2 linked regions of the Homo sapiens genome follow. The protein of the gene in region 1 purifies or fractionates together with the protein of each later gene. This does not show direct contact. Each region holds a gene or a part of one and is shown in the gene's direction. Other genes may lie near its edges. The genes, in order: CD200R1 and FUT8.

The links.
Region 2: the proteins of CD200R1 (region 1) and FUT8 purify together in Homo sapiens (affinity purification with mass spectrometry; 2 studies listed by BioGRID and IntAct, with this or other methods). This does not show direct contact.

What each region holds. Positions count from the first base shown.
Region 1 is NC_000003.12:112,944,100-112,951,384, reverse strand, and holds part of CD200R1 (cell surface glycoprotein CD200 receptor 1 isoform a precursor), read left to right. Parts: intron 1-3,460; coding exon 3,461-3,529; intron 3,530-7,285. UniProt on the Homo sapiens protein: Inhibitory receptor for the CD200/OX2 cell surface glycoprotein. Limits inflammation by inhibiting the expression of pro-inflammatory molecules including TNF-alpha, interferons, and inducible nitric oxide synthase (iNOS) in response to selected stimuli.
Region 2 is NC_000014.9:65,415,575-65,422,859, forward strand, and holds part of FUT8 (alpha-(1,6)-fucosyltransferase), read left to right. Parts: intron 1-7,285. UniProt on the Homo sapiens protein: Catalyzes the addition of fucose in alpha 1-6 linkage to the first GlcNAc residue, next to the peptide chains in N-glycans.

The sequences.
Region 1 (7,285 bases):
GCCAATTTGATAGAAGGCTTTTTATCAACAAATTCAGTTTTTTAAAGATATAAGGCTTTTCAGTTTTTTTATTCTTAAGTAGGTTTCAAAAGCTTTGTCTTCAATGAATTTGTCCATTTCAACTGTTACTGAATTTGATTAGCGTAATATTGTTAATAATATTCCCTCATTTTTCCTTTCACGAATGTAAATCTATATGAATGACCCTTCCTTCCTTCCTGATATTAGAGATTTGTGTTCTATTTTTTTCCTTATCAGTCTAGTTGTTAGTTTATAAATGTTGATTATCTTTTTAAAGAACTAGCTTTTGATTTCCTTAATTTTTTGCATTGCTTGTTTCCTCTTTTATTGATTTCTGCTCTTATATTTATTATTGTGTTTTCTCTCTTTTGTTTCTTGCTTCTATGGGTGAATTTTACACATTTCTTCCTTTAAAATTAGCACTTAAAGGTATTACTTTTCCTAAAACCACTGTGTTAGCTGCTTATTTCAAATTTTGGCATGTTGTATTTTCATTATCATCCAGTGAAAACTTTAATTTCTTCATGAATTTCTTCTTTGAGCAAAGGGTTGCTTAGACGTGTGTTTGATTTCTAAATATTTGGTATTTTCTTAAAAATCTCATTGTAATTGATTTCTAATTCAATTCTGTTTTGGTTGGAGGACATCTTTTATATGACTTCAGTTTTTTTTAATGTTTTTGAGACTTGTGGCACAGAATGTGGCCAAACTCAGCGAATATACGATGTGCACTTGCAAAGAATGTATTCTGCAGATGCTGGGTTAGGGTACTAAAAATATGAATTAGGTCAGTGTGGTTGATAACTATATTAGTTGTTTATAACTATGTAATGAATTACCCCACAACTTAGCAGCAGATAAGAAATATGTATTTTGAAAGATAAAAATACATCTTAAGTTGATATTGATACTTTTCATTAAAATTTAGGACTGAGGATTTTTTTTTCCTTTTTTTTTTTTTCTTTGACGGAGTGTCACTCTGTCACCCAGGCTGGAGTGCAGTGGTGTGATCTCAGCTCACTGCAACCTCTGCCTCCCGGGTTCAAGCAATTCTCTGCATCAGCCTCCCAAGTAGCTGGGATTACAGGCATCTGCCACCACATCCGGCTAATTTTTGTATTAAACTTACTTATTTTACATCTATTATCTTCTTTCTTCCTCACTATAAAATTGAACAATACCAACATACAGACATACCTATCTCTCCACAACCTCACCCAACAGTGTATGTTGTCAAACTTTTGGATTTTGCCAGTTATAGATGAGAAATGGTATTTCCAAATACTTTTAATTTGGATTCCTCTTACCATGACTGATGTGAAATATATTTTCATATGACTAAGAGATATTTTTACTTCTTTTTCCATAAAATTTCTGTCCATATGTTTAGTCTGGTTTGCTATAGGTTTGGGTTGATCTTTATTTTTAATCCAGCTTCATCTAGCCACGTGCCAGGGAGCTGTGCAGGCCACTGTTCTAAGCCCATGAATTCTGACAATTGTCTCTTCCCGAACTTAACTATTCCCGTTCAGATCTAGAATTCATAGTGTCTGTGTCCAGATGCCTTTGTAATCCTGATTTTATGGACTTGCCATGCGATCTGCTTTTTTAAAAGTTTGTCTCTCAGTGCTCTTGCAATAACATGGCTTAAACTCACTTCAGTTTGGGTTAATTTGGGTTGTGTATCTATCCTAGCATATTTCTTAGGCTCTAACCATTGATTTCTACTCATAGCAGTAAGACTTACTTGCACTAAGATTCATAATTGGGTAACTGAAGCAGCTTACTAGCCAGGTAGTCTTGGTCAAATTGCTTAATCACTTAATCTACATTTCTTTATCTGTAAAATGAAAATAATCATATCTGCTAGTTATAGAGAGATGGAAATAAAGAACATAGGCAAATTACCCAAAATCTATTCCTGTTATACTCATTCCATAAATTATCTTAAAAGAACAGTTTGCTAAAGAAAATGGCAGCTGAAAGGGGCAGTAGATTAAAACTTTTTCCAGAAAAACACTGAGCATTAAATTTTACTCTAAAAGGTGTCTCTTTGCCAGTCAGATACACTCACTATAGATAAGCTACGAGTGTATCTTTTCCTTGTGAACACATTCCAGGAGCTTTGTGCCTTGCACAGTTAGAGCCTGCCGATATCCAGCCTCAACTCCAATTACACATCCAGGTTTTCTCACTTCATGGCAATACTAAACTATTTATAACTCTTGTAAATTTTTATTTGGCTTTGTACCTCCTTTAAATGCCATTATTTTTGTTTGCATTTTCCCTTCTGTCTTCCTGGAAAACTCCTCATGTACTTAGATCCAGCTAAAAAATTACTTATTATAGGAAAGCATGCCTAATCTCTTACTCCTGTTTTCCTGGAATTTAAACATCTCTTCTTTTAAACTTCTATACATCACAGGCAACTTCGATCATTGCACTGAAAACTTTGCATTATAATTGTTTCCCTAGCTACTGCCTCTCCTGGATCTTAAGCTCTTGGAAAAAAGGGGATATTGTTTATTATGATATCTCTGTGCCTAGCAGAGTACTTTGCCAATAATTGCTGCTTAAAAGATGTGTACTACCAATTCTCACTAAGAGCTTGCCTTGCAGAAATGTGAACTTAATAGGCCATTGTCTATATCACGGGTCCCCAACCCTGGGGCTGCAGACTGGTACCAGTCCTTGGCCTATTAGGGATTGGGCCGCACAGCAGGGGGTGAGCGGCAGGTGAGTGAGAATTGCGGCCTGAGCTCCACCTCTTGTCAGATCAGTTGGAGGCATTAGATGCTCACAGGAGCATGAACCCTATTGTGAACTGTGCATGCCAGGAATCTAGGCTGTGCATTCCTTATGAGAATTGAACTAATGCCTGATGATCTGAGGTGTAACAGTTTCATCCGAGAACTATCGTGCTCCCTTCCTCCTTGTCCGTGGTGGAAAAATTATCTTCCTCGAAATGGGTCCCTGGTGCCAAAAAGGTTGGGGACCGTTTTCCCATCATAGATTCTATGATGTGACTTCAACAATGCTTAGGAAAATCCTTTTATTCCATACCAGCAGCCAATCAATAGTCCCCACTAAACTTTTTTTACCTCCTCATTGGTGCTTGAAAAGCCTAGTAAAATAATTTCTTCCACACTCAGAGATAGACTAAAAGCCTGGAAGAAGACTTGAATATAAAGCAAGAGGGGGGTGATGGGCACTCTGGGCTTAAAGCAGGACTATGCCAGAGTCAGGAAGAGAAAGTCAAAAGTTTATACTGGGACAAATTTTGCCAAGACTTTTGCTTGGCTGTCATAATTTAGATATTCATTGGCAACTGCAATACAAAAATAGTCTGAAGAATGTGAAAAAATATGATTTTAACTAGGAGTCAGATCTATTAATGCATATTTCTCTCTCTACCCCCTATGTCTTTTTCAAAATTCAGAAGCGGAGGGTGCTGCTCAACCAAACAACTCATTAATGCTGCAAACTAGCAAGGAGAATCATGCTTTAGGTAATGTGCATCTTTTAACAATAATTCTAGTAGGGGAGTGCTTGATGTCCATATAGGTTTTACATTTTTGGATCTTGAATTGTCTCATGCATTATCTGTATTATCTAAATGATATTATATTTAAGAGTGTTAATAAATTTTTCATTCTGAAATTATTTCTATGCTTATTTAGTACCTATTTTAAGAATGGGATCACTAAACAAAACCAATGGCCTATTCAAAAAATTTGTTATTCAACTTTTGAAACCTAGATTATTATCCCAGAGCACTTTTTAATAAGCAGATCTTAATAGGTGTTAATGATTTATTTTCTATATCCTCTCTCAACCCTATTTTCTCCAAAATTTTTGTTTGCCATTTTAATTAACATTGAAACAGAAAAGAAAAGTTAACAGACTTTATTTTTTTAGAGAAGTTTTAGGATCGTAGCACAATTGAGTGGAAAGTACAGAAATTTCCCCTATGACCTCTGCCCCCACATGTGCAAAGCCTCCCCATTATCAACATACCTGACTAGAGTGGTACATTTGTTTCAATTAATGAACCTACATTGAAACATCATCATTATCACATTATCAAAGTCCAAAGTTTGCATTAGAGGTCACTTTTAGGGTTGAATATGAATGTTTTCAGGCAAATGCATAATGACATGTCTCCACCATGATAATATTTTATAGAGTAATTTCACTGACCTAAAAATCGTCTCTATTCTACCTATTCATCCTTCCCTGCCCACTAACCCCAGGCAATCCTGGTATACTGTCTCCATAGTTTTGTCTTTTCCAGAGTGTCATATAATTGGAACGTTACAGTATGCAGCATTTTCAGACTGGCTTTTTTCACTTAATAATATGCATTTAAGTGTTCCCCCATGACTTTCCATGTCTTAATGGCTCTTTTTTTTTAGTACTGAATAATATTCCATTGTTTGACTATACCACAGTTTATTCATTTGCCTGGTAAAAGACATCTTGGCTGCTTCCAAGTTTTGGCAATTAGGAAAAAAGCTGCAATTAACACCCATGCACGGGTTTTTGTATGGATGTAAGTTTTCAACTCTTAGGGTAAATACCAAAAAGCATGATTGTTGGATTGCATGGTAGGAGATTGCTTAGTTTTGTAAGAAACTGCCAAACTGTCTTTCAAAGTAGATGTACCACTTTGCATTCCTGCTACCAATTAAGTTCCTGTTGCTCCACTCCTCGCCTTTGGTGTGTAGTGGTTCTCATTGTTGTTTTAATTTGCCTTTCTTTGATGACATATGATGTAGAGCATCTTTTCATATGCTTATTTTCCATAAATATGTACATTTTCCATATATATCTTCTTTGGTAAAGTGCCTGTTAAGATTTTTGACCTGTTTTTTAATCTGGTTGTTTGCTTGCATATTGCTGAGTTTTAAGGTTCCTTTGTGTGTTTTGGATAACAGTCTTTTATCGGATATGTCTTTTGAAAATACAGTTGGCCCTCTGTATCCATGGGTTTCAAATCTGTGGATCCAACCAACCATGGATTGGAAATATTTGGAAAAAATTCCACAAAGTTCCAAAAAGCAAAACTTGAATTTGCCTTACTACATTGAGTCCACAGGATGTAGTGATATACAGGCATTGTATTAGGTATTATAAGTAATCTAGAGACGATTTAAAAAATACAGGTGGTTATATGCAAATACTAAGCCATTTTATACAAGGGATATGAGCATCTGTGGATTTTGGTATCCATGGGGTGATGGAATCCCTCAGAGGCAACAAGGGATGACTGTATTTTTTTTTTAGTATGTGGCTTATCTTTTCGTTCTCCTTTTTTTTTTTTTTTTTTTTGAGACGGAGTCTCGCTTTGTCGCCCAGGCTGGAGTGCAGTGGCGCGATCTTGGCTCACTGCAAGCTCCGCCTCCCGGGTTCACGCCATTCTTCTGCCTCAGCCTCCGGAGTAGAGTAGCTGGGACTACAGGCGCCAGCTACCACGCCCTGCTAATTTTTGTATTTTTAGTAGAGACGGGGTTTCACCGTGTTAGCCAAGATGGTCTCGATTTCCTGACCTCGTGATCCGCCCGCCTCGGCCTTCCAAAGTGCTGTGATTACAGGCGTGAGCCACTGCTCTTAGAAATTTTTCACAGAGTAGAAATTTTTAATTTTACTGAAGTCCAGTTTATAGATTCTTTATTTTATGGATTGTGCCTTTACTGTGGTAGCTAAAATGTCACTGCCAAACCAAAGATCATTTGGACTTTCTCTTATGTTACCTTCTAGGAGTGTTTTTAGTTTTGCATTTTTATATTTAGGACACTGATCCATTTTGAGTTTATTTTTGTGAAAGGTGTGAGGTCTGTATCTAGATTTAATTTATTTTTGCATCTGGATGTCCAGTCGTTCCAACACCATTTGTTCAAAAGACTCCAATGTATTGCCTTTGCTAATTTCCAAATACAATATTTATGTGAGCCTATTTCTGGGCTCTCTATTTGGTTTCATTTACTTATTTAGCTCTTCTTTTGCTAATAAAATACTGACTTGATTATTGTAGCTTTATAGTAAATCTTGAAGTCGAATAGTGTCAGGCCTCAAACTTTGTTCTTCTTCAATAATGTGTTGACTATTCTGAGTCTTTTGCCTCTCTAGATAAACTTAAAAATCAGTTTGTTTATGTCCATAAAATAACTTGCTGAGATTTTGGTTGGGATTGTGTTGAATACATAGATCAAGTTGGGAAAAACTGGGACTTTGGTAATATTCATTCACCCTATCTGTGAACATGAGGTCTCACTCCATTTACTTAGATTTTCTTTGATTCTTTTCCATCAGAGTTTTATAGTTTTCCTCATATAGATGTTGCACATATTTTGTTAGACTTATACCTAAGTATTTCATTTTTGGGGATGCTAATATAAATGGTATTGTGTTTTTAACTTCAAATTCCACTTGTTCACTGGTGACTTATTGGAAATTGTCATACAAACATTGACTTTTGTATGTTAACCTTGAATTAATATCTTCCATCACATCAATGAGTCAATACAATACAAAAAATTGACTTTTGTATGTTAACCTTGTATTTTGCAACCTTGCTGCAATTTCTTATTAGTTCTAGGAGTTTTTTTGGTCAATTCTTTCAGATGCTTTACATAGATAATTATGTCATGTATGAACAAAGACAGTTTTATTTCTTCGTTACTGATCTTGATCCCTTTTATTTATTTTTTCTTGTCTTATTGCATTAGTTAGAAATTCCAGTGGTGAATTAGTTAGAAAAGCATTAGTTAGAAAAGCAGTGGTGAAAAGAGTCATCTTGCTTTGCTCCTGATGCTTTGCTTTCTCACCATTAATTATGATGCTAGCTGTAGAGTTTTTTGTAGATGTTTTTTAAGTTGAGAAATTTCTCTTTATCCCAGTTTACTGAGAGTTTTTAAAAAATCATAAATGAATGTTAAATTTTGTCAAATGCTTTTTATGTATCTATGGAAATGATCATATTATTTAGCTTATTGATGTGATGGAAGATATTAATTCATTTTTGAATTTTGAGCCAGGCTTGCATATCTGGAATAAACCCCAGTTGTTCATGGAATATAATTCTTTTACTACATTCTTGAATTTGATTTACTAATATTTTACTGAGGATTTAAAAATGTATGTTTATGAGAGATATTGGTCTGTGGTTTTCTTTTTTGTAATGTTTTTGTCTGGTTTGGTTATTAGGATAATGCTAACCTGATAGAATGAGTTAGGAAGCATTCCCTCTGCTTCTGTTTCTGAA
Region 2 (7,285 bases), on another chromosome or scaffold:
AGCTACAATCCTAAAATTTCAAAAACGAAGCTTCAAGTAGAATCTTATATGGGCGAAGGTATTAATTGTGTGGTAAGCTAGGTATTTATCAAAAGTAGATATAATTCCTTTTTTTTTTTTTTTTAAAGTAGAGATAATTCCAATAAAAAAATGGACCTTTTAGACATCTGGAGAACAATATCCCCAGGTCACTTAACCCTTATCTCCTGCAGTATAATGCAGTGCGTCCAGCTGATCTACCAAATTGAATGTGTGCCTTTGAATACGAAGCAGTTGTTTTGTGGCCTGTGGCATTTCATTTAGGTTTCTAAGCTGTAATAAATTAGTATGTTAATTTACTTCTTTCCATTCACATATTCTTTAAATCCAAGCCTAGAAACTGATAGTTATATGTATATTAAAATCATTGGAATATTGGTTTTTTTGCAGATAGTGTTTGGGCTGTTTATTATCCATAGCTCTTCATTATGTAAATAGAATCTCAATGCTGATAAAGTAAATAGATTCTTCCATTTCATTAATGGTTATTTTTGATTTATGATAAACTGCATTTAATAAATCTCTTGATTTAGTTAAATGGTGGATACATCATTTCATATTATAGCAAATTGATAAATATAAAAGAAAGTTTTACAATCATAAGAGTAAATATTTAAAAAAACTTGAATAAGTTACTTTACTAAACATAAAATTAAGATTTTTAAACAACTCTGAAACTAAAAGTATTACTATTATGGTACCTTTTTTTTTTTTTCCCCCAAAGAGATGTGATCTTGCTGTTTTGTCCAGGTTGGCCTTGAACTCCTGGGCTCAAGCAATCCTCCTACCTCAGTCTCTTGAGTAGCTGGGACTATAGGCATGTGCTACCACAGCCAGCTTTATTATAGTACTTTTGTACCCTGCATCAATGCTGCTTCTGTTGATACTTTTCAAAGGAGATATCAACTTCTGGTCTTCAACAGTAGTGTAGCATCCTCTTATTGATTCTCTGGCTCATATTTCACTACCGTATAGTATGGAGTTTCTTTCTTGGAGTTTGAATTGTTTTTACATTGCAGCTTGTTATAGTGAAACAATTAAACATATTTAAAAGTAAAAGATATTTACGACTGATTTTTAAAGAACCTGTAAAAAAATCTCCAACAGAAGAATATTATATGGGGATGTGTAGATTTAACATTTTATTTTCTTTAATTTTTTTTTTTTTTTTTTTGAGATTGGGGTTGGGGGTTGTCTCTCTATGTTGCCCAGGTTGGAGTGCAGTAGTGGCGTGATCACGGCTCACTGCAGCCTTGAACTCCCTGGTTCAAGCCATTCTCCCGCCTTAGCCTCTGGAGTATCTGGGATTATGGGTGCATGCCACCATGCGTGGCTAATTATTTTTTAATATTTGTAGAGATGAGACCTTGGTATGTTGCCCAGGTTTGTCTTGAACTCCTGGGGTCAAGTGGTCCTCACACCTTGGCCTCCTAAAATGCTGGGATTACAGGCGTGAGTCACTGTACCCGGCTCCTTTATTTTATTAAAAAGATTTTTGTTTGTTTGTTTGTTTCTAAGTTTAAAAGAGACAGGGTCTTGCCATGTTGCCCAGGCTGGTCTTGAACTCCTGACCTCAAGTGATCATCCCACCTTGGCCTCCCACAGGCGTGAGCTACCATGCTTGGTTGTAAGATTTTTAAAAAATGGATTAGTTTCAAATCTCAACTTCTCTTTCTTTCAACATTCTAATCTCCTGGCATTTTTTTCCTTTCCCCAGCTACCCCCCATCATCCAACAGTCTTCCATTTGGAATAATGGGAAATCAAACCAATAAAGTTAATCTTACCTCCCACCAGGCAAAGGTTTTTCTTAATCTCTACAATATTCTGAACATAAAACCCATATAAACTTTATATGATACTACACATTTTCCTTTTAACGGAGGAAGAGCAAATGGGACCTATGGAATTATGCCGTATTTGTCAATATAAGGGTTACTTTTGTACTCTTACTGAAAGCAGAGTTATAGGGCTAATTTCATTTAAATTTTCTTACCCATCTACTTTAAAAAAATACCTCTTTGTGGTAGTCTTTTTTTTGGTCAGAAAATGACAATGTGAAGGAGAAATACGTTTTGAATTTATAAATCTTCTTTTAATTAACAAATTATACCAATATAAGGGTAGTGTTAATGTGGTTCAAATTTGCCTTTGCTATTCTGCCTTTTCTTCTATAGTGATTGTATAGTTATACTATAACTTCTTCCTCGAAGCACTGGAATAAAAGAAAAACTTTTAAAGATCACTACGAAATGCTCACTGTATTTGTTGTATTTTATAACTTGGGTTTTTAAAATTTATTTTTCCATAAACTGAATAAATATGAAAACGAACTTGAAAGATCTTGTCACAGCCTTGATGACTGGTCAGTATAAAGTTCACATTATAAAATAATAAAACATTGATAATAATCTTAGATGAAAATGGAAAATTAAGCTAATGTTTATTTTAGAACCTGAGTAATGAGTTTATATCATGTAGCAATGAGGCACATGAAGACGGTTAGAATTAGTTTTTCTAATGAATAAACTTCATGATATAAACTTGAAAGTGCATAAATGCTATAACTTTCTGATTGTAAACTTGAACAAAAGTAAAATGAAAATGGGAGAGTCCTCTTAATTACCTTTAACGTATAACTAAAATGAACCTGTGTATCTGTCTAAGTCTTATTTGATCAAGACTTTCAATGGACAATGAATGAGTTTTAAGTTTTTATCAATGTTGTGACTGATTTTTCTATAATATCCCTTAAATGAGATATCAAATTCTAATAATATCTAGAACCAGATTAAATTTGGTTAGAGTATAAACAATATTTACAAACCATCAAAACTATAATAAAAGCATTGTAATGTTATTTAATGACTTAAGCCAACATTCCATAAGCTAATCTAAGCATTTTTACAATTAATACAATTGATAGTAATATCTTAATTAGTGGTAAAGTGGACAGATATAATTTATAGATTCTGTATTGTCTGGGACCTTGGGGCAGTCAGTGAAGAGAGGGAGATAGAGAGAGGAGCATACTGGTTGATGAGCTTGCCTTATTTGGAGATGAAGGAGATTTATTCAGTTTTTCTCTTTCCCTCTACTTACTTCTCCTTGTTTGTCATCCTCTTCTAGCAATGGTAAGAAATGCGGGAATTGACCATCTTTACAGTATACTTTTTTCCTTAGAGTTCATAGAACATTTCCAGGTAAAACATTAGCTTTTATGTTATAATAGGTTTATTATAATGATATCATTTCCTTTTGAGGTGGTAGGCAAGAGACTAGAAGAACTTCATTTGTATAGCATTTAATATTATTTATTAAAAATGATTTTATAGGCCGGGCGCGGTGGCTCATGCCTGTAATCCCAGCACTTTGGGAGGCCGAGGCAGGTGGATCACCTGAGGTCAGGAGTTGGAGACCAGCCTGACCAACATGGAGAAACCTCATCTTTACTAAAAATACAAAATTAGTCGGGCATGGTGGCACATGCCTGTAATCGTAGCTACTTGGGAGGCTGAGGCAGGAGAATCACTTGAACCCGGGAGGCTGAGGCAGGAGAATCACTTGAACCCAGGAGGCGGAGGTTGCAGTGAGCCGAGATCTTGCCATTGCACTCCAGCCTGGACAACAAGAGTGAAACTCTGTCTCAAAAAACAAAACAAAACAAAAAAACAAAAACAAATTCTAACCTTCATGTGCCTCATTACTGTAATGTAAAAAAAAAAACTATGTTCATTGAAGAGAACTAACATATTAAACTAAAAATGAAGCACAGTGTTCTCCACTCATGGGAGTACTGTTAGCAGGTTTAAGACAGTTACTGTGAGAAGTTCACAAGGTGAAAGTGTCTTTGATAATTAGGGCCTAATCAATTGGGATTTGACTTACTCAATTTCTCCAACACATGGAATTGTACTGGTACCTGAAGGAGAAAAATATATAATAGAAGTTGTATTAGTTTTTATGTCTTGAGCTCTCTGAATAACTACTTGATTCATTCAGTTGCCAAATGTCAAAAGATTGTAATTTTGAGAAAGTTGATTCTTTACAATTAGAACTAAGCCAGGGTAAACAATTTGCTTTCTTTTTCTAAGTTTTAGGTTTTTCTTTCTCTCTTAGGAAGTTTAGTGAAACTCTAGGGGTTAGGCAGGTTGTAACTGAAATTCTTGAGGCCAAAAGGTCCTGTCTTATGCTTGGTAAACCGACCCCCTCAACAGCGTGAGAAATGTAGATGTACTGATAACCCTGATTGCTTCGTGACATAATTACAGACATCCAGCCCTCTATCAACTAAAATTCCGTTTATTTTTAAGGTTCAAATATTAGAAGTATCTGCTTGATACATCTCATAGGTTGTCAAGTGTGCATACGATGAGAGATATAATGTTACTTTTAATTTGTAAGTAAACAAACACACAATATTATGTTCTCAATGCTGAGTAAGCTGAAAAGATGTATACCTACTGAGGATGCACCAAATAATAAGCAACAGAAACCTGGTAATGTGCAATTAGGAATAGTTCCTCTTAATAATAATAAAAAAAAGATTAGTGTTTAGGTTTTAATGGCATAAAGATGTAATGAAAATAAAATTACCAAAGAAGTCTATTTTGGAGAAATTTTTGTCAGACTAGATAACAAAGAAAAGAACACATCCTTTTTTTATTTTTATTTTTTATTTTATTTTAGAGATGAGGTCTTGCTCTGTTGCCCAGGCTGGTGTTGAATTCCTAGGCTCAAGTGGTCCTCCTCCCTTGGCCTCCCAAAATGCTGGGATTACAGGTGTGAGCCACCAAACTTGGCCAGAACACATCCTCTATATGACTGTCTACAGAGGCTTAGAGTAGTACAGAAGTACCTGAAAGGAAATAATGATAAATAATGAAAATGTTTTAATAGGGATCATGTGTTCATTTCTACATGTATATCAGTATAGTACCTATCGTTTGCTGTTTCTGCTTGTAAATGCACGGTTGGAAAATAAGATACCCAACCTTTGGAAATTATTCAGGGAAGTGCATCTAAAGTTTAGAGAAAAGTTGGTTTCTTCATATTTTAATGACACTTTTCAGCACGTATAGTTCACCCTTGAACAGCACTGGGTTTGGGGCACAGACCCCCATCAAGATGAAAATCCACATGTAACTTTTATCTCCTCAAAAACTTAATTACTAATAAACTACTGTTGACTTCCAGCCTTACCGATGACATAGTCAACTAACACATTGTACCTTATATGTATTATATACTGTGTTCTCAAAGTAAGCTAGAGAAAAGAAAATGTTATTAAGAAAATCATAGGCCGGGCGCCGTGGCTCACGCCTGTAATCCCAGCACTTTGGGAGGCCAAGGTGGGCGGATCTTGAGGTCAAGAGATCGAGACCATCCTGGCCAACATGGTGAAACTCCATCTCTACTAAAAATACAAAAATTAGCTGGGCGTGGTTGCATGTGCCTGTAGTCTCAGCTATTCAGGAGGCTGAGGCAGGAGAATTGCTTGAACCTAGAAGGTGGAGGTTGCAGTGAGCCAAGGTTGTGTCACTGCCCTCCAGCCTGGCGACAGAGCGGGACTCCATCTCAGGAAAAAAAAAAAAAAAAAAAAAATCATAAGGAAGAGAGAATATATTTACTCTTCATTAAGTGGAAGTGGATCATCACAAAGGCCTTTATCCTCATTGTCTCCACATTGAGTAGGCTGAGAGGAGAAGGAAGCGGAGGAATTCGTCTTGTTGGTCTCAGCATGGTAGAGGTGGAAGGGGGAAGGGGAGGCGTGAGAGGCAGGCACACATGGTGTAACTTTATGGCAATACGTCATACTTCTGCCTTTTTTGCTTTTTCATTTCTCTGAAAACATTTCCATATGGTACCAATCCTTCTTCCACCGTTTGCTTTAGTTTCAGTGCCCATATCAGAGAAGGGTCCATGTCATGAAGGAGTCAAAAGCAGTCTTGAACAATCAGACAGTCTTCTGCCATATCGTCTGATGTCATTTTGTTTTCTTGCATTCCTTCTACATTACCTGGTACTGGATTGGAAGCACTTACCGAGTCATCTTTTTAAATTCCTCTTGTGTGATGTCTATTTCTTGAATTTCTCCAAGATTTGTATCTTGAAACCCTTTAACCCACCCCCCCCTTTTTTTTTTTTTGCCATATCCACAGTCTTTTTCGTGATTTCCTTGATTGGCCCTGTGGCAAATCCTGTGAAGTCATGCACAACATCTGGACACAGTCTTCTCCAGCAGGAATTTATTGTTTCAGGCTTGATGGCTTTCATGGCTTTTTCCATAACAACGACGGCTTCTTCAGTGGTGTAATCCTTCCAGACTTTCAGGATGGTTTCTTTATTGGCATTCTCTTTCATAGAGTTGACAGTACTTTCTGTAGTGTACTGTGTCCAGTGATCCTCGTGACCCCCTGATTTAGAAGCTGAATTAGAGACATTTTGTTTGGGGGCAAGTAGACTACTTCAGCACCTTTGGTGTTGAACTCATGGGGTTCCGGGTGGCCAGGGGTATTGTTCAATAATAAAAGAACTTACAGGCAAAATACTTCCTGACTTCAGGGACAAAGCATCAATGGAACCAATCCAGAAAAAGGGTTCTCATTGCCCAGGCTTTTTTTGTTCTATGACCAAAAGACTGGGAGCTGGTGTTTATCTTTTCCCTTCAAGGCTTGGGGGTTTGTAGCATTATAGATAAGGGCAGTTCTGATCATAAACCACACTGCATTTTCACCAAACAGTAGAGTTAGCCCATCCCTTCCTGCCTTTAATCCTGGTGCTTTTTCTCTTCCTTACTAATGAATGTTTTTTATGGCATTGTTTTCCAGAATAGGGCACTTTTGTCTATATTAAAAACTTGTTTAGGCGGATATTCTTTCTCCATATTTCTTTTTTTTTTAAGAGATAGGGTCTTGCTCAATTGCCCAGGCTGACATGCAAATGGCATGATCATAGCTCACCGCAGTCTCAAACTCCTGGACTTAGGCAGTCCTCCTGCCTCAGCCTCCCGAATAGCTGGGATGCAAGTGTGCACCACTATGCCTGGCTAATTTTTAAATATTTTTTATTTTTTTGTAGAGACAGGGTCTCACTGTGTTGCCCAGTCTGGTCTTAAACTCCTGGCCTTAGGTGATCCTCCCACCTGGGCCTTCCAGAGTGCTGGGGTTACAGGTGTGAGCCATTATGCCTTCCCCCAGCTAATTAAAAAAATGTTTTTTGTAGAGGCAGGGTCTCGCTGTATTGCC